Linked DNA regions of Homo sapiens: all the other regions are linked to region 4. Evidence: fine-mapped expression QTL. A gene starts in region 4. Each other region holds a variant in brackets. All regions are shown on one strand. Distances are between the middles of the regions. Region 1 has its middle 44 kb from the start of CD164. Region 2 overlaps ZBTB24 (zinc finger and BTB domain containing 24). Region 3 has its middle 28 kb from the start of CD164. Region 4 holds the start of MICAL1 (microtubule associated monooxygenase, calponin and LIM domain containing 1). Region 5 overlaps CD164 (CD164 molecule).

Evidence for each region. PIP is the estimated chance that this variant, and not a neighbour inherited with it, causes the effect. A credible set is the group of variants that fine-mapping cannot tell apart.
Region 1: its variant is the best candidate, but not a certain one, in a credible set for the expression of MICAL1 in monocytes (CEDAR, PIP 0.57).
Region 2: its variant is the best candidate, but not a certain one, in a credible set for the expression of MICAL1 in whole blood (INTERVAL, PIP 0.74).
Region 3: its variant is the best candidate, but not a certain one, in a credible set for the expression of MICAL1 in whole blood (INTERVAL, PIP 0.59).
Region 5: its variant is the best candidate, but not a certain one, in a credible set for the expression of MICAL1 in memory regulatory T cells (Schmiedel 2018, PIP 0.64).

Annotation. Positions count from the first base shown.
Region 1 is chr6:109,336,257-109,341,386 of GRCh38, forward strand. It overlaps the pseudogene CCDC162P. Among named protein-coding and RNA genes, the nearest start is that of CD164, 44 kb to the right of the region's middle. The variant C/A (reference allele first, on the strand shown) is at 3,133.
Region 2 is chr6:109,477,221-109,482,350 of GRCh38, forward strand. It overlaps ZBTB24 (zinc finger and BTB domain containing 24), which reads right to left. Exons shown (of 7, transcript NM_014797.3): 2 at 3,855-4,834. The coding sequence starts at 4,806. Among named protein-coding and RNA genes, the nearest start is that of ZBTB24, 3.4 kb to the right of the region's middle. RefSeq lists an enhancer at 3,490-3,991. The variant T/A (reference allele first, on the strand shown) is at 2,268.
Region 3 is chr6:109,351,745-109,356,874 of GRCh38, forward strand. It overlaps the pseudogene CCDC162P. Among named protein-coding and RNA genes, the nearest start is that of CD164, 28 kb to the right of the region's middle. The variant T/C (reference allele first, on the strand shown) is at 2,280.
Region 4 is chr6:109,453,005-109,458,004 of GRCh38, forward strand. It overlaps MICAL1 (microtubule associated monooxygenase, calponin and LIM domain containing 1), which reads right to left and starts at 2,768. Exons shown (of 25, transcript NM_022765.4): 1 at 2,715-2,768; 2 at 935-1,235; 3 at 634-841; 4 at 259-363. The coding sequence starts at 1,192. RefSeq lists enhancers at 1,360-1,409, 1,640-1,689, 1,772-2,280 and silencers at 1,840-2,179, 2,540-3,389.
Region 5 is chr6:109,367,229-109,372,358 of GRCh38, forward strand. CD164 (CD164 molecule) reads right to left here. Exons shown (of 6, transcript NM_006016.6): 5 at 3,183-3,239; 6 at 1-1,789. The coding sequence ends at 1,623. Among named protein-coding and RNA genes, the nearest start is that of CD164, 13 kb to the right of the region's middle. The variant A/G (reference allele first, on the strand shown) is at 2,670.

The DNA of each region.
Region 1 (5,130 bases), 120 kb before region 4:
GGAGAAACAAAAGTGGGTCTGTGAGCCAAGGCAAAGAGTGCCTGGGGCCCTGGCATGATGAGGCTGCACTGCTGGAGTGGCTGTGAATAATGAATGCCTCTTTCCTTTCAGATCACTTTCAGGAAAGATCACCTTGAGGCCTGCCTCCTTTCCCTGGGTTGTGATGTGATGGCAAGAGAATGCAGCAACTTTGAGACCTACTCCATGTGCTATGAGCATGTGTTGCATCATGCTAGGCAGAGGCTCAGCCAGAAAGAGCAAGTAGGTTCCCAGAGAGAGAAGAACTGCAGTGGGGAATGGGCATGGGCAGGGAGGCTCAGGAGGCACTCAGAAGAGAAAAGTAAAACTGAGGGGGTTGGGATACATACAGTGGTTCTTATGCCAGAACTGAGGGTGAATGGTACCCTCAAATCTCTCTACTCATTGGCTCAATCATTCTCCTGGGCTCTGGTATTCTCAGTTGCACACTAGGTTATGTGCTTGGGAAGTGTCCAGTGGAGAATACGAAAGGTGAGCAACAAAGGGGCTGGCCCTGCAGGGGAAGGTACATAGCTGTCCTTTCCACCCTCAGCAAACACAAGGCACCGTGCGCTGTTCCTGGTCTGGGAAAGAAGCCAGGATCCTTGAGTAAACTCTCTCTTCAGGATGCATGTCATGGGTCAGTCTCACTGGGAGACTTCCTTAAAATATGAGCCTGCTGGTGGGATGGAAGAGTCAGTCCTCCTGCCCTGGGCTGCCCACTATTGTGAAGGTAGATTGCATCAGAGATTTAGTGTGATTTTAGTTTATACCTTAGAAAAGTTCAAAAGTCTAAACCACTAGCCAAAACACCAAATGAAGCATTGAAATGATGAACAACGAGCCTTGGAGCCACCCCTATTTTGGGCTATCCCCATTACTCAGTTCTTGGCATCAGTGTGGGTACCTGGAAGTCAATGTTGTCTTTTGAGGCTGTGTTAGGCATCCTGAAGTCCAGTGGGGCAACTCACACAGTCTCAGCTCCAGGCACAGCCTAAGGTTCTCAAAATGGGGCTCCATTAACACAAATAGGAGGTGTTTGGAATGTGTTGTACTGACCTGAGCCATGGTTGGAAGACTAAATGTTAGAGTTTGGTTGTGTACTGCTTTCTCCTGCCCAGGAATTAGATGCTACACAAAGAGGCCAGGGTCCACCTGAAGACAGTGCTGGCCAGGTAGGTCATTTCCTATTAAAAGGTTCTCTTCTCCATTTCTCACATCCACACTCTCAGGGCTAGCCAGCTATGGGATGCCTTAGAGTCATTTGCTTGTGTCACCTGTAGAAGTCCCGTCAGTGAAGGTCCACTGCAGGAACACCAAGGAGTGTGCTTTCACTTTTGGTGAGCAACCCTCCTTAGGGTGCATTTTTTTTTCTTGAGTTTTTTGGTCGCTTTTGTTATTTTGTACTGGTTTTGTTTTGTTCTGTTTTTGTTGTTACTTTGGGGAGTTTTGTTGTTGTTTCTTGTTTTCTTTTGATGCCAGTTAAGGTGCATTCCAGGCCAGACGCGGTGGCTCACGCCTGTAATCCCAGCACTTTGGGAGGCTGAGGTGGGTGGATCACCTGAGGTCGGAAGTTCCAGACCAACCTGACCAACATGGAGAAACCCCGTCTCTACTAAAAATACAAAATTAGCCAAGTGTGGTGGAGCATGCCTGTAATCCCAGGTACTCGGGAGGCTGAGGCAGGAGCATTGCCTGAACCCGGGAGGTGGAGGTTGCGGTGAGCCAAGATCGCTCCAGCCTGGGCAACAAGGGCAAAACTCTGTCTCAGACTAAATAAATAAATAAAATAAAATGCATTCCAAAAAAGAAAAGGGATGTTTGGGCTGAGGTGTCAAGGGGAGGCCAGTTTGGAAATGGAGGCCAAGACAGTTGAAGTATTTTTCTCTAACTGAAAAGGGCCTATGTAGTGGCTTTTCTGGGGTCACTTATTCACCAGTCAGTGTCTGGCACTGTTCTGGGACCTTTGAATTGTCCTTAAATTCTTCTGCCCACATTTATTTAGCAGAATGTTCACTCTCTTCATTAGGTTTAAAATAGAAGTGAAATTCAATACTGATCTATAAGAAACTATTTTGTAGTAGCAGTTTGAAACTCCTAAATTGTTTTTCTCACACACACACACACACACACACACACACACACACACACACACATTTTCTCATGCTTCTAGATTGCAGAGCTCAGTCATGATATGATCATGGAAATCACCACTCTGAGAGCCCAACTCACAGACTTGGAAGAAGTGAATCTGAATCTCAAGAAGCAGATTAGAAAAGAAGTCCAAGAAGAATATGAAGCATTAGTCCGAGCTTTGTTTGAGACCTGTTTACACATAAAAGTAAGTGTCCCGTGTTGAACATCTGGGCCACCCATTGGGTAGCCGAGTGTAACGGATTCCCATGGTGGCTGCACACCCAGGGATCGATGACAGAATAATGGGCTTTGTAGTAACAAGAGATTGTTAGGCCCAAGAATTTTCTAGCTCTAAGCTTTCACTGCAGAAAGAGAGTCAGCAATGGGTTGTCATTAACCACGATAGACACTGAATTTGGGGATAATATAGAAGTCTATCTTTTACCCTCTATTGACAGTTGCTATTGTCACTGTCTGATTGCTGTTGGGAGGACAGAGTGTTCTGCTCCCCACAGTCCCTCACCTCCCCAGTTTCTATCACCATTTTATCTGTTAGTGTGACTTTCCAGACTACAGTGCCTGGGCCAGGCCGGACCTTACGTAGGTAGCAGCAGGTGCCTCTGGAGAACTCCCTGGACACATTCAGAATTTGAATCAGCTTCCACATTTTTTTCCAACCCTCAAAATGCCTGCCAGCCTCACTCTCACATTCAATGTCAGCAAACTGCTGACCTGTCAGCAAAGACCCATTGCAGAAGTGATGGGGTACGCATGCACCCGCAGCACTGTGGAAGCCAATCGCTTTCATGTGATGTTTGCACAGCCATAAGATAGATGCCCCAAGCCTAAAATGGGCCATCAGGGAGACTGGTCCAGCTGACTCACCAGTGTGAATTTCAGTGCAACCTACCACCTGCAAGTCCACAGCTTCCCCCAACCCTGTCCCCTTCCCTGCTATTGGATACACCCCAAAGCCAG[C/A]CCCGTTTGGGTCCTTGAGTCTCTCCCCAGGGATTGCAGAATGGCCCTGAGGGTTGTTAGGTTAACAGGAGCTTCCACCAGTACTCACCTTGGCCTGGTCATTCCAGCGAGAATTTCCTCTTACTTGCAGTGTAAATGCTTACACATATTAAGGGATCGAACCCAAAATGTATTAGGTCTGGTGCTGCAGGAGAAGGATGGGCAGACAGTGACAGCTGGAATTTGCTAAGCCATCTTTCAGGTGTGAGATTGTTGAGAAATGTCTTAAGTTCCTTTTAGCTTCTGCCAGATTCCCAGTTAAAAAGTAGATTCTCTCTGTTTCCCAGGCTGAAGTAGTTCCACCAAGCCTCCTACAGTAGGGAATCCCTGTTATATTCCAGGGTCCCACGAAGTTGCTAAAGCTTGTGTTGTGTGGCCAGAGCCAGGCTTCCCTCCGTGGCTCCCAGCTGGGCACCCTCCTCCTGCCTTCCTCTCCAGGGAAGTGGTTTAGAAGTGAGAGGACACCCCTACCCTACCTCTCACCCCAGAGACACTGGGTGTCTTAGTCTGCTCAGGCTGCCATAACAAAATATGATAGGCTGCACAGCTTAAACAACAGAAAGTATATTTCTCACAGTTCTGGAAGCCAGAAGTCTGAGATCAGGGTGCCAGTGTGGTCTGCTTCTGGCTGAGGGCATGCTTCCTGGCTTGCAGGTGGCTGCCTTCTCACTGTCCTCACATGGGAGAGAGGGAGAAAAAGAAAGGTCTCTCTCTCTCCCTCTTCCTATAAGGCCACAGTCTATTGCAATAGAGCCTCACCCTTATATCCTCATTTTAATCTTAATTACCTCCTAAAGATCCTATCTCTAGATACTGTCACATTGCTGGTTAGGGTTTCAACATATGAATCTGAGGAAGACACAATTCAGTCCATAGCACTGGGTCTTCAGTCGTACTTACCATTGATCAGGCTGTTTCCTCACAAGCCATTTAGCCAGAAGCCATTCAGAACGGAATATTTCCTAATGGGGTTTCTGCTAGATCCTAAATAGGAAGGCAGCCAGCCTGACTCCCTCCTCCACTTTATCTATATTTAACAGAGCTCCTCAGGAGTGGCTCATCTACAGTGTCTTGTCTGCTCACATTCTACTGTGAGTCAACATAGCAGCAAAAATCTTTGGTTCAGCTTCCCAAGTAACTCTTACCAGGGGCAGTTTGGTCAGCAGGTTTTCTACCTGTGTGACCTTCCACTATCCTCCTGGCTCAGCTTGCCTTGGTGTTGACAAGGAAGGCACAATCTAAGATGTGCTGGTGTCCAGAAGATGAAGCCCTGTGAATAAAAGACAGCACTCAGGGGGCTGCTAAGTGTGACTTCCTTATAGTACATGTCAGAATAATTGTCTGAGGAGGTGATATCTTAATGTGAAATTACTTACAAAAGTTAAGTTGTAGAAGGCAAAATGGCTTTTCTTCAACTACCCTTCACACTACCCAAATCCATTTTACTTCCTTGACTTGATTCTGCAATTTGCAGGAGAAGCTGGATGATAATCAGCTTAATTTGATCCAGAAAGTGTGTGAGCTCATCGGTGAAGTGAGAACAGAAGGGATTGACAATATGAAGGACCTAAAGAAAAAATGGTGCTCTGCCAGCCCCGATGAAGGAATGAAAGAAAACCCAGCCAAAGTATGTGATTTCATTTAGCAATGGGATATCAGCGTTTCATCCTAGCATCTGACTCTACCATTCACCCTGTTAGCATTCCAGCCTGATTTCCCTGAGAAAGCATTGCATCAGGCATTTTAAAGGGGGCACAGGGACGCACTGCACAATTGTGTCATCTTCTGGAAGGCATGTTTCTGATGTTAGGGTTTGTGCCCTTCCTATGAAAATGTTGGGGGCAGCCTTTCCTGAAAATGAGCCTTCTTAGCAGGAACAGCTGTGGGCCTTGGAGCAGGACAACTGCAGCCTGGCCAACCTGGTGTGCAAAGTGAGGAGCCTGGGCCGCTGGAGGCTGG
Region 2 (5,130 bases), 24 kb after region 4:
AACCTCCTGGGAACAAATGATCTTCCCACTTCAGCCTCCTGAGTAGCTGGGATCACAGGCATGTGCCACCACTACACCCAGCTAATTTTTTAATTGTAATTTTAATTTTTTTTAGAGATGGGATCTCACTATGTTGCCCAGGCAGGTCTCCAACTCCTGGGCTCAAGCAATCTTCCTGCCTCGGCCTCCCAAATTGCTGGGAGTACAGGCATGAGCCACCACACCCAGCCCAATACAACCTAATTTTTAAGACACAATCTCCTAAGGCTCAGGAATTGGTGGCACCTGCTATCTCTGGAAACAGGGGTGAGGGAGGGTAAATGAAAGTCTGTTTCAAAGGTGCTTAGACCCCTGATCAAATCTTCCACTCTACACAGCCAGGAGACTGTCCCTCCCCCAAAAGAGAATGGAGAGTGTTCACTGAGGAGGGTTAAGAAAAAGGGGTCTTTGGATTAGGAGTTTCTAGGCACAGTTGAGTTGGGATCACCACAGGGAGAGTAAGTCAACATTTCCATCTGGGATGATGAGACTCCCCCACTCCTTCTTCCCCATCCTGTCCTAGACACAGGCCAGCAGCCAGGCCTAGTGCCTCCAAGTGGGAGAGCAGAAGCGTCTTCCAGTGGAACATGAGAGGTCCAAGGTGAGAGAGCAAAGATGTGGAAGCCAGGCACCAGTAAGGACATGGGGCACAGCCACACCACCTCCAGTGAGGTTATGACAGGCCTCCATACAACTGTTTCAGTACTGACTGAGTGGTTAAGTTAAACATTAAAAGCCAGTGCCCTTAAACAAAGGCTGGAATGTAACAAAAGCCCACCAAGAGTTTCCCCTAGGCTTCTCCTGGGCCTTAAAGCATGACAAAATAACGAAGGAATTCTTAACAGGGCCCACTTAGGATTAAACAAGTTTTACTGGGGATCTGAAGGAACTCCCCAAATCTCCGTGATTTAGCAGAAGATAAGGGTAATCACCCCAGCACCTAGACCCATTTAGATTAAGTAAACTTACTGAGGCTCCAGAAGAAGGTCTTTGGGACGCAGACCTTGGATATAGATTAAAAGAAGTTAATCACCTACGTCTTTAGAGGAATGCACACTTACAGACAGACATACAGCTTAGGCGGTATATAAGCTCTGAAAAATTCTGTAATTTTGAGTTGGTCTGGCGATAATTTCCAGGCCTTCTCCCTATAACTGGTTACAGAAATAAAAACTCTCTTCCTCTCCAATTCATCTGCATCTCATTATTGGGCCACGAGAAATAGCAGCCTGACTCTCAGTGTGATCTGGGAACAAGGTCACAGTTTTACAGACTCTCTCATACAAAAAAAATTAGCCAGGCATGGTGGTGCGTGCCTGTAATCCCAGCTACTTGGGTGGCTGAGGCAGGAGAATCACTTGAATCCAGGAGGCGGAGGTTGTGGTGATCGGAGATCACGCCATTGCACTCCAGCCTGGGCAACAGCCTAAGAAATAAATAAAATACAGGCTCTCTCCACACATGCAGCATTGCCAGTAGCTTTTAGCAACCCACCCTTACATATGATTTAAAAAAAAAACACCAGGCACTCAAGGAGAGCCTTTTGTAATAGTGACAGACAAACAAGCAAGAAGAAAAAAAAAAGCAACTTGCCTCCAGTGAGGAAAATGTTGTTATCATTAACATGCTCATAGAGGTAAGATAATACATTGTGAAATAAAAAGATCATTCAAATTAAAACATTTAGAAAAAAAAGAGCTCCTAAAGGGGGAAAAAAATAAGAGTTGAAACAGAAAACCTCAAAGGGCTGAAAAACAAAGTGGAAATCCCCCAGAGGGTGGGGCCAAAAATGATGGAAAATATAAGAGAAAATAAAGTTAGAGAGAACAGAGAAAACAGAGAGGAGAAATCATCTATGAAATAACTCAAGATTTTCCAGAACTGAAAGACAGTTTCCAAACCTTATGAATCTACCTGTTATCTACCCAGATGGAAGAAAACAGACCCATACTAAAGTGATGGGCTGCAAAATTCAGAATACAGATGCTTCCTGACTTATGATGGGACTACATCTAACAAACCCATCATACTGAAAATATCATAAGGAAAAATGCACTTATACAGAGTACTGTATGAATGCACCAAATGCAGAGTACTGGTCATTTACCCACGTGACTGTGTGGCCCGGCATGGCATGAGAGGATCATACTGAATATTACTAGACCGGGAAAAGATCAAAACTCAGAATTCAAAGTACAGTTTCTGTTGAACATGTACTGCTTTCACAC[T/A]ATTGTAAAGATGAATTGAACCATTGTGAGTCGGGGACTGTCTGTACTGAGGACATAAGGGAAGAACGATCCTACATGCTTTTTCTTAAGTCTTGTATAATGATTTAACTCTAAACTATGCACATAAAATTTTTGATAAAAATAGCCAGCTGGGCGCAGTGGCGCACGCCTGTAATCCCAGCACTTTGGGAGGCTGAGGCAGGCAGATCACGAGGTCAGGAGTTTGAGACCAGCCTGACCAACATGGTGAAACCCCGTCTCTACTAAAAATACAAAAAATTAGCTGGGCGTGGTGGCGTGTGCCTGTAATCCCAGCTACTCAGGAGGCTGAGGCAGGAGAATCACTTGAACTCGGGAGGCGGAGGTTGCGGTGAGCCGAGATCGCGCCACTGCACTCTAGCCTGGGTGACAGAGCGAGAATCCATCTCAAAAAAAAAAAAAAAAAAAAAAAAAAAGCTAAAATATAACCTATTACAGTTCAACAAATATTTCTCAAGTATCCACTTTGTTCGAAGTACCTGAATTCAAGCTCTTCAACCTATCTGTAGCTAAAGTCTTTAGGGAGCTTTTAAAAGCACCAAGGCTCCAGACAACTAAATCAGAAGCTCTGGGGTGGAGGTCTAGGCACTGGTAGTTTTAGAAGCTCCCTAAGTGATTCCAATTTGCAGGCTGAGAACCACAGCACCAGATACTGCTGGATCACAGGAGAAGACTTAAGCCCCAGTCCCTATACTTAAGATTACAATTAAGTTGAGGGATATACAAGTGGTAACAACAATCTGATCCAAAGCAGAGTGGGTTTTAAGCACCTGAAAGGGCTCAAAGGAGGAAGGGATTTCTCACTAGGACTGCAGTGTCCAATACGGTAGCCACTAGCCACATGTGGTTATTCAAATTTAAATGAATTAAAATAAAATTTAAAATTCAGTTTCTCAGTCACGCTAGCCACAGTTCAAGTGCTCAAAAACCACATGTGGTTACTGGCCACCATATTGGACATCAGAGATGTAGGAACATTTCCATCATCACAGAAGGGTCCCATTGGTCAGCGCTGGGCTAGAGGGACCAAAAATGAGAAGGTATTTAAAGCTAGATAGCTGAGTTACAAAGTGATCTACACAGACTTGGGCAAAAGCATGGTTATGGTCAAGATGAAGAATGTTCAAGAATCAGAAAGCAGGGTACATTGGGCTAGATCTTGATAAGTGGACATTAAAGGATTCATTCAACAACTACAAATGAGAGGGGTTCTTGAACCAGGCTACCTGGGTTCAATCCCAGCTCTGTCACTAACGGGTGACTCTGGCAAGTTATTTAAGCTCCCTAGAACTTGGTTGCTTCATCTGTAAACTATGCACTTTAGCAACCCTCTCTTACATATGAGTAAATATGATTTTAATCATACAATGTATAATGAGGATATTACCCACCTTGCAGGATTGTGGAGAAAATTAACTGCAATAACATGTATAAAGGCTTTATTACAATGCCCATCACACAGAAGTTGCACAGTAAATGGAAGCTATTATTATCATCACTACTCCCAATTCTGCAACACACTGCAATCAGCTTTGAAAACATCATTACCTGTGTGGCTCCTCTGGTGGATTGCTAAAAAGTGATTGTACTTAAAGACCTTGCCACAGTCTTTACAGCGGGCCTCAGGGCCTCCAGGGCGCTTTCTCCTTCCACAGATCCTCTTGGCTGAACCATGGTCCTCTTGATCCCCAACAAGTTTGTAATCTTTAAGTTTGACGGATCTCCAAATCCTCCGCTTGCTGTATCGACTCTGGCTTGCCTGGCCATCCTCGGTCTTGGGATCATAGTTCTCATCTTTTTCAACTGGCATTTCCTCCTCTCTACTTGGCTCACAAGTAGGCTCCGATTCTTCCTTTTCTTTTGCTGCAATTTGCTCATTCAGTACACCACTGTCTCCTTTAACCACAAAGTTTTGTCTATTCTGAACTGAATTGTTCACTCTTAACTGTATTTCTTCCTCTGCAGCCAGTTCTGATTTCTCCTCCTGCAATGTATTGACTTTTTTTGGTCTTCCCCGTTTCCGCTTTGGAGGATCGTTTTTCTTATTAGAGATAACAACCACTGGGGCACCAGCAGTGTTCAAAGTTGTTGGCTTTGGGGAGCTATGATTATTTTGGAAGTCTGTGTAAGCCTTTACCAGGTCATAGACTTTTAAGAACTGAGCAGTAGCCAGGATTTGTTCTGTACTTTTCTCACTGGCATGGAGATAACCTGTGTAGATAAATTCCAGCAGGATACCAAAGGTGTCTGCAACCATGCCTTCCAGCATATAAATGGATTGGCCGATTTCCCCCTCTTCTGCAAACATCATTGAGAAGTATTCACTACTGGCAGCAAGTAAGGCTTTGTGGGCCCGGAAATGTACATTCTCCACGATTAAAGTAATGTCACAGAGGAAGCCTTTCTTCCTCTGATCCTCAAAACTGGCCAGCACAGTGTCACTGTGAGCGTCTGAGTGTACAACAAGCTGCCCAGAAGGCTCTGGCGATGTTTCTGCCATTTTCTTCAGAAGCCACTAAGGGTTAAATCTGAAATAAGAAAACAAGGTTTAAAAAGGAGAAAGCACTGTCTAAAAGGTTAATGCCAGCCCACATGAACTTCCTATTCACTTCACATCATTAACTGAATTTTACCATTACCATTTTTGTCTGTCTACAAACTTAGCTCTGGGCCCGGGCGCAGTGGCCTCACGCCTGTAATCCCAGCACTTTGGGAGGCCGAGGCCGACGGATCACTTGAGACCAGCCTGGGCAACATGGAGAGAATTCATCTATACAAAAAATACAAAAATTAGCCTGGCGTGGTGGCGCCCGCCTGTGGTCCC
Region 3 (5,130 bases), 100 kb before region 4:
TAAGAAGAGAGGAGAGATTTGCAATTGGGGGCCAAGAATAGGTCTCTGCACCACCACCAGCAATCTGATTTTTCTTACCACCATTTCATTGCAGTTGCTCTTGCCAAGATCACCTTCACTTCTGTCTCCAAGTCCAAAGGACACTGAGTTCTCACTGATTTCATGTCTCAGCAGCATTTGAAACAGCTGACCACACCCTTCTCCTAATTATTCTCCTGGCACTGCTCCTTGTGGTTTTCCTCTTCCTCTGGCTGCTTTTTCTATCTCCTCCTTTTCTAGTTCCTCCTACTGTATCCAACCTCTAAACACTGAAGTTGTTCAGGGATCTTTCTGGCCCCTTCTTCTCTCACCTCACATTGTCTCCAAATAATTGCATATTTCCCACAGCTTTAATCATTGTTTGCTAAGTCTACATCTGCAGCTCAAAACTCTCCTCTGAGCTGTAGACCCCTATATCCAGTGACCCATATGTCCAGTGAATAATGTCTACGTTCACGTGTCTCAGGCTCACAAGTTCAACAGGAATGGAACCCGTCTTCCTATCCTTCTCCCTTCCTACTTTTGGGGTGGGGGAGATGCTCTTTCAGCAAATGGTAGTGCCAAATATCCAGTTGCTTAAGCCAGAAATTTGGGAGCTATTCTTTGTCACCCTGCAAATCTGGTTAATTCTCAACTCCTACTAATTTAAGTAGCTCTCAGTCTATCCGCTTCTACCTACCACAGTCCAAGTCTCTTGTCACCTCCTTCACTTTTACTTGGTCATGCGACTATTGGGCAAAAAACTCTCTCCAAGTTTTGACACATTTGCTCAAAATTGATGAAGCTGAAAAATAAGCTGAGTTAGATGCCAATTTTAAGCCCTAAATTTTATGAATTAAATCTAGATACAGGAATTTGAGGTTATAGTGAGCTACGATCGTGCCACTGCACTCCAGCCTGGGCAACAGAGTGAGGCCCCCACTCTCAAAAAAATAAAAAATCAAAATAATCTAGGTTTATCCATTGCAACCAGAGATATAATTTAACATTTTTAACTTTATAGACCTTATATCCCAGGCTCAATACTCCCCAACTTCTGCTTCCACATCATCCAGATACTCCCAGCAACGCTTTTTAAAGACTAATCTCAAAGGCAGTAAAATAACAAGATGGATTCAAAGGCCACAGACTGTAAGTAATAATAAGATTGATTACATGCATTAAACAATAAAGCCTTACAATTTGATTTCATGGTTTTTGGGTCACTTCAGACTTACATTAGAAAAATTATATATCAGGAGCTTATGTAGATGCCTTGAATCTGGATAAGAAAATTCTGATGTTGAAATAATCCTATAACAGCACCTTCTAAATTACAAGTCAATAAATGGGTGTGGAATCAGTACCAACACCTTGCTGTGTTCCATCTCTGAATTTCTTTTTTCCCCCAATCATCTTCAACAATTAACTAGCAGCATCAGACTCCTTATCTGAGTTCCCCAACAGAGCAGAAATAAGTTTCGGAAGTCATTTTAAAACACGTGAGAAATCTACCCTCCAAGAAAATTCCTGGGATGCAGATTAGCATGTATTTGAAGAACTCGTAAAATGTTTCAGTTTTTAGTTTATGTAAAACAACATATACTTCCTCTTCCACTGCCTCCTCTCTACTGCTTTAATAAGTATTTTACTCTTTGCTGCATTTTCTTTCAGAATCCCTTCTAGAGATTCACATATCTAATCAACACATTTAGGAATTCCTGGCTGGGCACGGTGGCTCACACCTGTAATCCCAGCACTTTGGGAGGCCGAGGCAGGCAGATCACCTGAGGCCAGAAGTTTGAGACCAGCCTGGCCAACATGGTGAAACACTGTCTCTATGAAAAATACAAAAATTAGCTGGGCATAGTGGCGGGCGCCTGTAATCCCAGCTACTCGGGAGGCTGAGGAAGGAGAATCGCTTGAACCTGGGAGGCAGAGGTTGCAGTGAGCTGAGATTGCGCCATTGCACTCCAGCCTGGGCAACAAGAGTGAGACTTCATCTCAAAAAAAAAAAAAAAAATTATTTCCCATTACCTGATGAAAAATTAAGAGGAAAATATTTAATCATTCCTTCAGAGAAAAGTATGCCATTCCAAGTCATTCGATGGTGTAATTCCGCAGCTGATGGTCTAGTTATAAGGATCAAAAGTTTCAAGATTTCTAAACATGCAGTTAAGAAGGGGGAAAGACAGGTTGGGAAGATACCCAAACACCATCTTGACCAAGTGAGGGCCACATTACTAATGTCCACCATTTGC[T/C]TGACTCACCAATCTCTGTGCAGTCATCTTTCTTGAAAATGTGAAATTGTATTATATGTCTATGTTTCCGCAAAAGCCCTTTTCAAAAAGAAGCAAAGTTCACTTTGTATGTGTGGGATCACAAGGGCTTTCAAGAATCACTTCATCTCCATTTCACCCTGAAAGCTGCAATACCATGGGGGTGTTGGTGATCGTGACTTGTTGAAAAGGCTGCTAAGCAGATAAGTGCATTAGTGAAGATTTATTATATTTGAGAGATTCAAAAGGGTGATAGGCTAAAGCTAATTGATGAACATTGCCCTACCAAATAAATAAACCCTACAGTGAAGTGTCTTGTGGGCCCATTGGCCCAGTGGCTATGTACAATACGGGAACCCCAAGCAAAAAACCTCAAGGCCAGGGAAGGTACACAGTTAGCTGGAACTTCAGATCTCAGGTCTGACTTCTTAAGCAAGGCCTATGAGACAAGTCAGATAAATACTCATTGAAGAGGAATTTATACATGGCTGAAATGTAAGAACACAGTTAATTTTCTAAAAATTAGCCCTGCACTAACACAAATGATAAAAAATTAAGGAATTTTTAGATTACTTGAAGTATGAGCTGTGTTTTCTTCCTTAACTGGAAATGGCTTTCCACTGATGGATTCATTCTTGACCAATTCCCTTTAGGACAATGGCAAAATACAGACAAGAAGGCATACTATATGGCCTAACCCAGACTGAATCAATGATCTTGGTCTCATTAATAACAGTGACTTTTTATGATGCTATAACAAGAATTATTCACCATGTTCTTAACACCAATATCTACTTATATTACAGGTACCTATTAAACACAAAAAAAGAACTGACGATGTTTTCCTACCCAATATGGCAGAAAATGTTCAACTGACAGCTTTTCAGGTTCAAACAGCTCCATCCAGATTCCCATTTAGAGCTGACTGGTGATGATATCTTCTTTTTCCAACCTTTATTTCTATGAGTATTTGAATGAATAAAAATGACTCCAAATGCCATTAAATCTCTTACTTAATTTTATGTATGAAATTCTCTTATCTGTACTTGGAAGACAGGGTTGAAGGACTAAGATGATTACATCTTGAACCAACCCCAGGTGAAGTAGGGGTTGGTCCCAGACTTTAAAACCTAAGCATTGATTTGCATTTCTACAAGCTAGCCTTTGCCTCTGGTCAGCCAGCAGCCTCTGAATACGAATTCTAGAGTTAGTGGGTAAGCAGGAAAGCTAAGATGGAGGCCCTTGCTTCTAAGCAGTGTTTACTAACAAGTGAAAAACCAAAGTATGTTAATAGAGATTAACACAAATGAACGTTAAAGCATTTGTTTCACTTCTTAGAAAACAAATTTGCCATCCTCTATTAACAATCTTTTCATTCTTCCTACAAATGCCAAATACTTCCTCAGACTTTAGTATAAAGTCCTAATCCAAGTCCTTTGTTCAGACAAGAAAATCTGTCTTGTGTAAAGCAATTAATAAACAGATGAATGGAACAGACAAACATATTTACATGCATAAATTTAAATACGATGTATGTGGCTTTTCAAACTAAAGAGAACATGGAGGCTATTTGGAATAAATTAAATCATCACCTTACCCCATACACTATAAATCCCAAATGGATTAAAGATCTAAATGCACATACGTACACATGCATACAGACACACATGCCACACATGCACAAACTGATTTTTTAAACAGAATATAAAAGCCAATAGGAAAATTGGTAACTTTGGTATCAGAACTAAAACTTCAGTATGATAAAATACTGTATCAGTTATCAACTTATATCTCAGCTCCAAATTCATTCTTTATTGTCTGTTCTGCAATAACAAATATGGACCCTATAAATATTTCCTCTTTGCCAACTGGCAAGAAGTTAAGCTCTCAGTAGAGGGTGCTGGAGGGACCCTGTAGGAGGTGGCAGGGTTTTTTTCCAGGTTACCTTGTGCTCCTCTAGGCAGGCTCTTGCAGTGTGCATGGCTTCTGCAGCACCAGGTTCTTGTAGTATATACAGTTTCTGTGGTGCCTGGCTCCAGTGATGCATGTAGCTCCATGGTAGAGTGCCACTTGCATGGCACCTCCTGTGACGGGTCCCCTCCAGCACCCCTTTGAATAGCTTTGCAGTCTCTGTGAATTTCTCAGCCATCCAATAAGCTTTGGCCAGATCCTCTCCAATGAGGTCTGGATCTCAGCCCTGAAGGGTAGTGGCTGGTCCCTACATCCGCTATCCTTGTATTCTTTAGAGTTCTCTTTATTGCTTACAAGCAGTATGCCAATCTTTTGTTATAGTTAATAATTCTTTATATCAAACTTTCCCTGTTTGAATTACTGTGTGCTTTCTGTCTCCTGAATGGCCCATGACTGATATAGAACTGGTACCAGGAGCAGGGTGTTCCCAGAGGATAGACCTGCTATGGTTTGAATGTCTGTCCTCTCCAAAACTCATGTTAAAATTTAATCCCCAATGTGGCAGTACTGAAAGGTGAGACCTTTAAGAGGTGATTGGGTCATGAGGACTCTGCCCTTATGAATGGATCGATCCATTCATGGATTAATGGATCGATCCATTCATGGATTAATGGATTTGTGGGTTGTTAAATTAATGGACTATCATGGGAGTGGGACTGGTGGCTTTATAAGAAAGGAAGACTTGGGTAGCATGCTCAGCTCCCTCACCATGTGATACCCTGTGCTGCCTCAGGTCTCTATGGAGGGTCCCCACCAGCAAGAAGGCTCTTACCAGATGTGCCTCCTCAACCTTAGACTTCCCAGCCTCCATAACTTTAAGAAATAAATTCCTTTTCTTCCCAAATTTCCCCATTTCAGGTAT
Region 4 (5,000 bases):
CAAAAATTAGCTGGGCATGGTGGCACATGCCTGTAATCCCAGCTCCTCAGGAGGCTGAGGCAGGAGAATCACTTGAAACTGGGTGGCAGAGGTTGCAGTGAGCCGAGATCATGCCACTGCACTCCAGCCTGGGTGACAGAACGAGACTCTGTCTCAAAACAAAAACAGAAAAGGACACTCCTGGCCCATCCTTTTTCAGACACTGGCCAAGTTCTTGATGGGGGAGGGGGAGATTCCAGGGAGCATAGAAATACTTACCCTTCCTAGGAGGGGGCTGGAGGCCAGTGAAAGTGACACCCCAGTGAATTTCCACCCCCAGCAGCAATGCTACCTTCAGCAGAAGCAGCTGGAGCTGCCTGATGCCTGGAAGGGAGAGGACATTAGGAACAGGGACCCTAGGGCAGCACAAGCTCCCCATGTACCAGTGTGTGCCTGGTCAGGGTCAGACTGGAAAAGGCCTTAGCAATCACTCAGCCCAAAAGCCCACTTATAGATGGGGGACCTGAATCTTCAAGGTCACCTGGCTGATACGGATCTTGTCCACTTCGACATTTGGCTGTCCCAGCATTTCCCCACTGGCCTGCCTCTAGGCCCAAGCTCACCCGCCCCTCCAGGCCACCACGTGGTGCTCACTGATGTGGTCCAGGGTGCCGGTGCAGAAGCGCCCGTAGAACTTCTTAGCACCGAGTGCCCGCAGGTCGTGGATGGTGAAGGGCCAGAGGTGGAGCACGTTGTGGCGAGAGAACTTGGTGCGCTTTTCCACCAGCACCACTCGGGCCCCCAGCAGCGCCAGCTCCACAGCGACCCGCAGCCCGCAAGGTCCAGCACCCACCACCAGGCACTGTGAACACACAGGGCAGTGAGGGCATGGCATCCTGTCCGTCCTCTGACTCCCCGCATGCTCCACACCCCATCCCAGGCACCGTGTATCCACCTTGGTGCTGGTGCAGGCCCGGCCCTGCTGGTAGACAGGCTGGCCTGCTCGCTTGTCCAGCTTGGTCCACAGTGACTTGGCGCTCCAGTAGTTGAGCTGGTCCTTGATCTTGTGGTACTGGGGCAGCCCCCCACCGGGTTCCAGCCCCAGGGCCCCACACAGCTCCTGGAAGCTGCTCAGCACGTCCTGGCACAGCTGGGCCTGCAGGAAGCTCTCAAAGTGGGCATGCGCTGGGTTGGTGGAGGTAGGTGAAGCCATGGAGGCCTCCTGGGGAGGGCAGCAGCTGGGCAGAGATGAGTGGCTGGAGAGGTGGAAAAAGAAGGGGAAGAGGCTGGAGAACAGAAGAAATAAAAAGGAAGGGGAGGCGAAGAGAGCAGGCTGGTGTCCCCAGGGAGCTCGGGATTCACCAGTGATTGGCTCTGCTCCTCCCAGCCCATTCCCCTGCCAGCATCTGCTCCAGAGACAGCTGCTATCCAGTCCACTCCAAGTGAAATTTGCCAAATTTGGAAGTGAAAAACATTAGTCTTGGGCACAGAGGGCACATGGGACACCAGGGGAGCCTCCAGTTCAGCCTCCCTGTCCAGGGATCTCCAAGCCCTGGGGTAGGAATTCTTAGCCTGCCTTCCTTAGGCCTTGGAATCAGGGTGTGCGGGGATTTCTTAGATGTGGAGAGGACAGAGCTGCCTTTGCATGCAACACAGGGACAGATCTGATACCCACAACCCCAGCTGCTGAGCATACATCCTGCCCCATCTCCCTCCAAGCGTCCCTGTGCCGGCGCCCCTTGATGGCCTCAGTGCCACGCTGTGTCTGAGAAGTGTCTCATGGCAAGGGCAAAGTTTTCCTCAGCACTCGTGCTTGCCTCCTGACAGAGAAACAGCCTCTGTCCGCGTAGGTTCCACTTCCCTCCACCAAACTGCCTCAACAAACGGCGGGAGGATGTTGCGACTGACTGGGGAACGGAGGCCTGGGTCTATTTCTGACGCACTGTGGTCAAAACACTTCCTCTGTGAATGTGCCCTACTCCAGGGGGCCGTGGGTAGGGCTGGGGGTCGACCGCAGCCGGGTGCGCCCCTCCCAGGTTCCCCCCTCCCTGATCGACCCCTACCCCGCCCCGCCCCCTGTGCGCCCGGGCGCGCTCTCCCAGGAATCTCCGGAGACAAAGCCTCGCTTTGTCGCCCCCTCCCACGCCACCTGAAGGGTGCCCGAGGGGGTTTCTCACGCGGGGCCCAGAAGGTATCAGAGGGTATGGAGGAGGCGGGTGTCCACGGCAGCGTTAGGGAGGGTGAATGGCAGCAGTGGGGGCAGGTCCCTGAGGCTCAGGCCCCTCCACCATCCAGCTGCCCCTCCGTTCCCAGCCCGCCGCGCCGAGACAGGAGATGAAAGCCTCCCGCTGCGGGTGGCCCGGACGAGGGCAGACGGAATCTCATGACGGAAGGGCAAAGATCTTTCTTGGGGGTGGAGGGTGGAAGGAGGAAGACCTCGGCGAAAGGGGAGAAAGGAGCGACCCAGCCTGGAAACGCCAGGACAAAGGCTGTGAGAGGGGTGGAGCGGTCTGAAAGGATGGAGAGGGAGCTGGACCGCGGGCGGCAGCGGTGGGGGTCCCCGACACTGGACGGCAAAGTCCGGACGCGGCGTGAGCAGGGCTGGGCTGAGGGAAGACCTGCCTGACCTGCCAGGCGTGGTTCCCGAGCGACCGCAGCTGCGTTTCCCCGGAAGCGCACCCCACCTCACCCCACCCGGCCGCGGGGCTCGCAGCCGGCTCCGCTGGACGACTTACCGGCGGCTCCGAAGCCGGGAGGGGCCGCTTCCTGTTGGGCTGGCAACCAGGTCTGAGCGGGTGGGAGGGCGGGGGCGGGGGCGGGGGCGGAAACGCCGAGATCGGGCGGGGATGCTGGGATGCGGGGCGGCCCGGGGCGTGCGCCTGGAGTCGCGCGGAGTGTGGGCTTCCGCGAGGGGCGCGGGGCGCCGCCCGGGCTTTATTCGCGACTCATTAGCATCTCATTACTTCTGGATCCCTCTACCGCCTCCAGCGGGGACAGTCTTGGGCCCGCCCATGCCTGCAGGGTGGCGCCCGAGGGCGTGGCGCTGCGGACACCCCGTTCCGCTCTGGGGCCTCTGGGTGGGTCTGGCCTGTTGGGGGCTGAGGAGCTCGAGGGTCAGGGCGCCCAGTGCTGGACCGCGCACCCTCGGCCTGGGCTCCTTGCCGGTGCTTGCGCGTGCAAGGCTAGCTCTTTCCCCGCCGCAAGGCGAGGACCACCCGCCCCCGCCGCGGTCCCAGGTCCGCTGGCAGCCTCCCAGCGCCGGGCCGAGAGGGCGCTCAGGCTCCTCAAGAGGTTTGGAAAAGCCGGCGGGTCCGAGGGTGGCGCCGGAACGTCTGCGCTCTCCTCCGGTCTCCCACCTGGAGATCCACGGCCCGGGCGCCCCAGGATGGATCCAAGCGCAGAGTGCGCCTCCTGTGACAGAGGTCGACCCCTAAGCCCGGGCCGAGGGCAAAGGGCGCGGATTAAAGTCCTGGAAACTCAGCAATCTGCAGCTTCCAAATGGATATGAGAAGTGAGAGGGAAGGGGATGGCGGGGCGGGTTAGACCACCACTAAGAGATGGGGAATGGGAGGGGTGTGTGGAAGAGAGACCAAGTCTTCAAAGAATGCCTTAGAGTGAGGACCCACGGGACTGTCTGCTGAAAAGGGCTGGAGAGGCCTTTGGGATCAGCTTCGTCGTATTCCCGATAAGGAACAGCGCCTAAAGTGAAGGGACGCGTCCAGTCTTTTAGCTAGTTAATATTAAAAAACATCGTCTCATTTATTGACCGTCATCCTATGAGTATTACCTCAACATCAGTGCTTGCAACAGTCCCATTTTACCAAAAAGGAAACTGAGTCACAGATGTTCTGTGATCTGCACACAGCAAGTGGCAGAGCTGTTTGGGGGCCCAGGTCTGTCGGCTCCACCACCCCAGGGTTGACCCAAAATGACGCATGAAAGGCTGGCATTATAAGATGCTGTTTCTTGTTTAGACGAAGTGATACTGTTACACTGGAAGCACTAATAAAACCCAGGTATAAATAAGAGGGTTGCTGTCCTTGAGATCCAGAGACCATAAAGAGCTGGGAGGGAATAGGGCCTCTCCCTTTATTCTCATTTTGCATTTCATCTGGAAAATATCTGAGACCCAGTAAGACCTGAACACTCACTGTTCCCAGCTCGAGCTGAGAAGCAGGCAGTGGGACGAAAGCAAGGGGAAATGCCTGTTCTCTGCCAGGAGAGGCGAGGGAATTCAGCCAGGTCACGCTCAGAAAACTAGGGCAGCCTCTCAGTTGGGCCCATCCTAGCTTTTGAGTGTGACACGTCATTTGGCTTGAAATGAATTTGCCGAATATCAGACACACCCATATTTAAATACATGGTGTAAAAACGTTCTAAAGTCCACTACAGCTGGGTTACCCTGGGCTCCACCACCCCAGGGTTGATTCAAAATGATGCGTGAAAGGCTGGCATTATACGAAGCTATGTCTTGTTTAGAGGAAGTGAACTGTCACGCTGGAAACACTAATAAAACCGAGGAATAAAGAGGAGGGTTGCTGTCCTTGAGATCCAGAGACCATAAGAGATCCAGAGACCATAAGAGATCCCGAGACAGTCCCTGGCTTCTAGAATAATCTCATTTCCCTTTCACTAGCAGATGGTACACAACTAGCCGCTCCACTTACTACAACTACAGCGGCTACAACTAGCCGCTCCACTTTGCAAAGGCTTAGTGGGGTCTGGCTTGACTCAATGCCTTTTGCCAAGCAGGGTCATGTGGCTCTATGAATGACACATCATAAAATTTGTCTTTAAAGAAGATCAGAGAACAATAATGAGTTCATCAGTGCTAAAAACTGCTGACTTGAAGTTTCAACTTATGCTAATTAAATACTTAACATGGGGGCATAAAGCAGCAGGGAATACATTGTTCTGGAATCCAGAAGGTCTGGTTGGATTCCAGCTTTGCTTCACGCTAGCCTAGTGTGACCTTGGATGTCACCAACCACACTTCGTCTGCCCATCTCTAAATGGAGGCA
Region 5 (5,130 bases), 86 kb before region 4:
GCAAGTAAAACAAACAGCTGTACCAACGAGTAACAAAGAAACAGTAAATCTTCATCTTAACAACCTTTAATAGTTATCTAAATGCAGAGTTTGTTTATGAAATGAAACAAAGCAGTTTGTCATTTCTTACTATAAAATATTGAAAATCAAGTGCGAAACTCAGCCACTATTGGCTAAAGAAACTAAATAAAAAACGTTAATGACCTAGAAAAGCAAAAGCCCATTTTAAACTACTTAAAGCCTCTGCACTAGTCCAATGAGTCAAAGGCAAGGGAGAAGTAAACCTCTAAAACTGAAGACGACCCTCTAAAGGAGAAAACTATAGAAGTTAAAGTATGCATGCTTATTATACTATGGGAAACCAAGAAGGAAGGGAGAGAAAAAGAAAAAGCACAGTCTATTCATCCAGGACAATCAGTAAAAATCTACAGTAACCTGATCAACCAAAAAATCCTTAGGTGTTGTGAAATTACATTGGTCACTTCTGTTATCTTAAAACTTAAAATGATTGTCTCATTTAAAATAAATGATTCTAAAATAATATGATTGTCTCATTTAAATAGTAAATGATTCTAAAATAATGTATATCCTTCTTGCCTCACCAAAGAAGTCACTACTCAAGACAGTCTGGTGGAAATCCTTTCAAGGTACAATAGTGCTAGCATACTTTTTTTTAAAGTACAAAGGAAAGTGTAATTAAATCAATTTAGCTCTATACTTTTCAACAGCCATAAGAAAAATGTTGGGAGGTTCAAGATACGAAGGCTTTCAATTCTGTATAACAGACTTTAGCTTAAGTTTCTCCGCTCTGAAATAAATTTTCAATAAAATATTAACAGTATGATATCTAAAACAGGTTTACTACTGCTCACATCAAGTTACATCCTCTGACCAATCCTTACCTTCCTTAATGTCAAAGAACAAATCATAGACATTAAGCTAGAGCTTACCTTTCACTGTCTTCTAAGGCACTGTTCTTTATATTCTCAATGACATAAGATGCTTTACAAGTATGAACAATAATCTGTTATACACACTAATGGTATCCTTTCATTTCTTTAAATCTGGAATGTAGTTCCTTGTGTGGCATCTTATTTCTAATGTAGAAAAAACAGCTGTTATCAAGCACAAAATTTTAATCTAAGGATACCATTTAGTACTACTAAATTAATAAATTTATTCCACTTTTGAAATGACAGCCAAAAATCCACCTAATTGATTCTCATTTGGCACGTTCTTCTCAATTCTGTTCACTAAATTAAAATTACTAAATTTAAACTGCCAAGAGCCATGATGTTGTCTGCACAAGACAACATTTTCCATCACTTTCAGAAAGTTATATTTGGCATGTTAAGGAAAAAAAATATAATCCCACAGCAGCAGCTATTTAAAATAAGACAGCCACAGGATTCATGCAGAATATTTTAAATATTCCTGTTGAACACAATGATTTAATTGATTTTTTCTTCACGGATGATGCTCCCAAACATCCTATATGCATCCATGGAAATTTAAAGATCCTGGAATAGCGTCTTCCATGTGGGACATCTTAAAAGATAGTATTTTGGCTTCAGTGAGTTACACAAATGAATCACCAGTCCTTATTAATTCAATGGGTCTGTTTACAGAGTGTGGTAATTTCGTTCTTTAGATTTGCAGAATTTATAAAGAAAGAAAATTACAGCCTGCACACCCAAGACCAGGACAATTCCTCCAATGAAACTGGCTGCATCAAAGGTAGACTTTCGCACAGGTTGTGAGGTTGGAGTCACAGTGTTATTTGTTGTACCTGTTAGATAAGACAAAAGAAACAACAATCCTAAGTTTCATGGTCCTCTATTGTAATTTAAAGATGCACCTGAGCCTCTATTTTGCCATGTGTTAAATTCTATAAAGTATTTCCTCAAGTCTTTACAGCTAGAATTTATCCCTAATTGAGGAAGACAACCATATCCCATTTTTCATTCCACCCAAGGATACAAAGTGGTCAATGCTACTGTACTAGTACAAATATAAAAACAATGGGAAAAATTCTCCTAGTACATAAATTGTGCCCTGGGAATGTATCAAACACTTCTAAAATATGCAACAATTTCTTCAGACTATGTACTTTTAGTTAATTGTGAGTGTAAACGTCAATAGTGCTGAGAATTCACATGACTTTTGAATTTACTAGTATAAGGTAAAATATTTGGTTGCAATTTTTCATGTTACAAAAATAATCTTAATAATATGCAATTTATAATTTCAACAAGTAAAATAACTGTTTTTAAAGGCATATCCTGCCAACAAATTTCACATGAGAAAGTATTATCAAGTAATAAGGAAAAAACAAATATCTGAATTCTTTTCAGGCAGTAAAATGTTTCAAGAGGAAACAGAAAAAGCGATTTCCATTTAAAATAATCTAAGAAAAAAGTAACAGTTATCAAAGAACACTGGTTCTGGTGGCTGTACAAGTTGGTAACTTTAATGACAACTGTTTTGTATTCCTTCTCGTGAAGACAGAATGGCTTCACTGAAACTGAGAAAAAGGTGGCATAAGCATGAAGAAAAAGAAATCACAAAAAGCAGGTAGAAGATTCATTAGCATCAGTTTTTTAAAAATATGGAGGGAGGAAAGGATTCCTAACCTGTGTACCTACAGTATCCTGTGGCGTAACCTAACT[A/G]TGAATTAAATTAGATTATGTCAAATCATCATTTAATAACAAGCTAATTTTCACATTACTGAGCAATGTTAAGAAATGGTTAAGAAAGTGAGGTGCACATCTGGTAGTGATTCTGGCTTTTTAGACCTTTCTCAGTGAAAAGGACGGATATATTATCTTCCCTCAAATCGCCATGCTCTCTCATACAGCACACAACCAATCCCTAACGGTAATCAGAAGTTACAAATTAGATTTTACATACAAGTTGTACTGAAATGTTTGGAAAAACATTATTACTTAATTCTAAAGTGTCACGTCAAATGTGATTACACATTTAAAAATGAGAAGAGGAATCTCAGCAAAGCTATCATTATTGTGTTAACAAAGCACTACCTTGATCCCCCCTAAGAGTAAGAGAAGAATTTCAGTTCCATAACCATTAACGAAGAAAGCTGGAAAATGATGGCAGAAATTGTAAAGGGCAACATCGTGCACACATCCTGCATCATTGCTAATCTAAAAAGCCTCAATTACCTGATGTAGTAACTGTCTTGGAAGTTGTAGAAGGGGAGGGCTGAACTGTGGGTTTAGCTGGAATGAAAACAAAATGTCTTTTTAAAAAACCTTAAATTTCTAGCTTCCCAGTTATCTAACAGCTTTAAAAAATAATCCTGCCAACTTCAACATGCTTTCAATTTTTTAGAGACCAAAAGCCAAATTTCAGTTAATGGTTCACTAACATAGCTATGCACCCAAGAATACTAGGATTTAAGTGTATTTTAAAACAATAAGCAATCATAAAATTGTTAATATCTATGTATCTATCTTGTATAAAATCTATGTATACATCTGGATAAAATTTGCGAAAACTCTTATCTTGCTCACTGCCAAGGGCAAGAACATTTAGGTGAGGAAACTATAGGTTCTTCATAATCTTTCTCCTAAGACAAAAACTATTAAAGTCGTAAGTTCTCTCTTACAAGGGTATTGAGATTTGCCTATCTTCTTCACTTCAGGAGTTGGCAAACTTTTCTTAAATGGGTTGAAAGCAAATATTTTACTCTTTGGGCACTGTGTGATGCAAAAGCAGCCAAAGTCAACATGCAGACGAATGGGCATGGTATGTTCCAATAAAGCTTTATAAGAACAGGGGCCCTGGGCCCACAGTTCCCCAACGTAAGATTCTAAGAGCCCAAGGTTAAGTAAGCTCTAGTCCACCACACTGCATGAGGCCAAAATACTATTTGAGTTGCCATTACTAAAGGCAAGAACTGCAATTACTTTTGCACCAACCTAATAGCTGATGATACTGCTAAAGAAATGTACACTCTGAGAAGGATTAGTTTGAATGTAAAATCATTTTAGGGACTAAAGCACTCTTTTTTTTTTTTTGAGATGGAGTCTCGCTCTGTCACCCAGACTGGAGTGCAATGGTGCATTCTCAGCTCACTGCAACCTCCGCCTCCCAGGTTCAAACGATTCTCCTCCCTCAGCCTCCTGTGTAGCTGGGATTACAGGCATGTGCCACCACACCCAGCTAATTTTTTATTTTTAGGAGAGACAGGGTTTCACCATGTTGACCAGGCTCATCTTGAACTCCTGACCTCAAGTGATCTGCCGCCTTGGCCTCCCAAAGTGCTGGGATTATAAGCATGACTCACCTCGTCCAGCCAGTATATCACCTATTAAGTTTCTATTGGTAGTATGAATACTAATAGAAGTCTGACCAAGGCTTTCAGAAAGGAAGGATGTGAATATAGTTTCTACAAATTAACATTTTTTCTAACATCCAAATGGCTACCAAATAAATTCAAAGTTTGCTGGAGCATTTGAGAAAGGTTTCATTAAGAGGTTGTCCTAAGGGTAGGGTTCAAATTTTTGGAAAGTGCACTATAGGAGTCACTAGCTAAGAGAGCTTATTTTGTCTCAGGAAATCATTAGGTAAGTCAGGCTTCAGAGTGCAAGGGCTTCAATATGAGGATATGCTTATGCTGGTGGGCCGCTAGGGATGATCTGGGGAAAGATGAGGAAGATTAATCATATGAGATTTATATTTTTATAAAAATGTAAGGTGCTATGCAAACATTCATTTTTGTACTATTTCAGAAAAAAGGGTTTGAAGGCTAAAGAGAATTTGGAAAACAAATGTTACTTCTGTTTAAAGTACATAACTGAACAGACTTCAAAGTGATATGCTTAACCCACGAAAGACAGGGAAAGGGTGCCAAATAACTGTTGATGAAGCACAGAAATGAGTAATCTTTTCACTGCATTAGACTTTCAAACAATCGAACAAAAACCTCAATAGGAATCAGCATCCTCCCAAATTCTACTAATATAAAAGAGGAAGTTCTGTGCTTTAACAGTAAATATACACTAAAAGAGCAGGGCTTGACAGTTTTCAGATATTGCTAAATACCTGAATTGTTGCTAAAAGTAGATCTTTAAAGACCAGGACTCTCGTAACAGGCTGACTACCCAT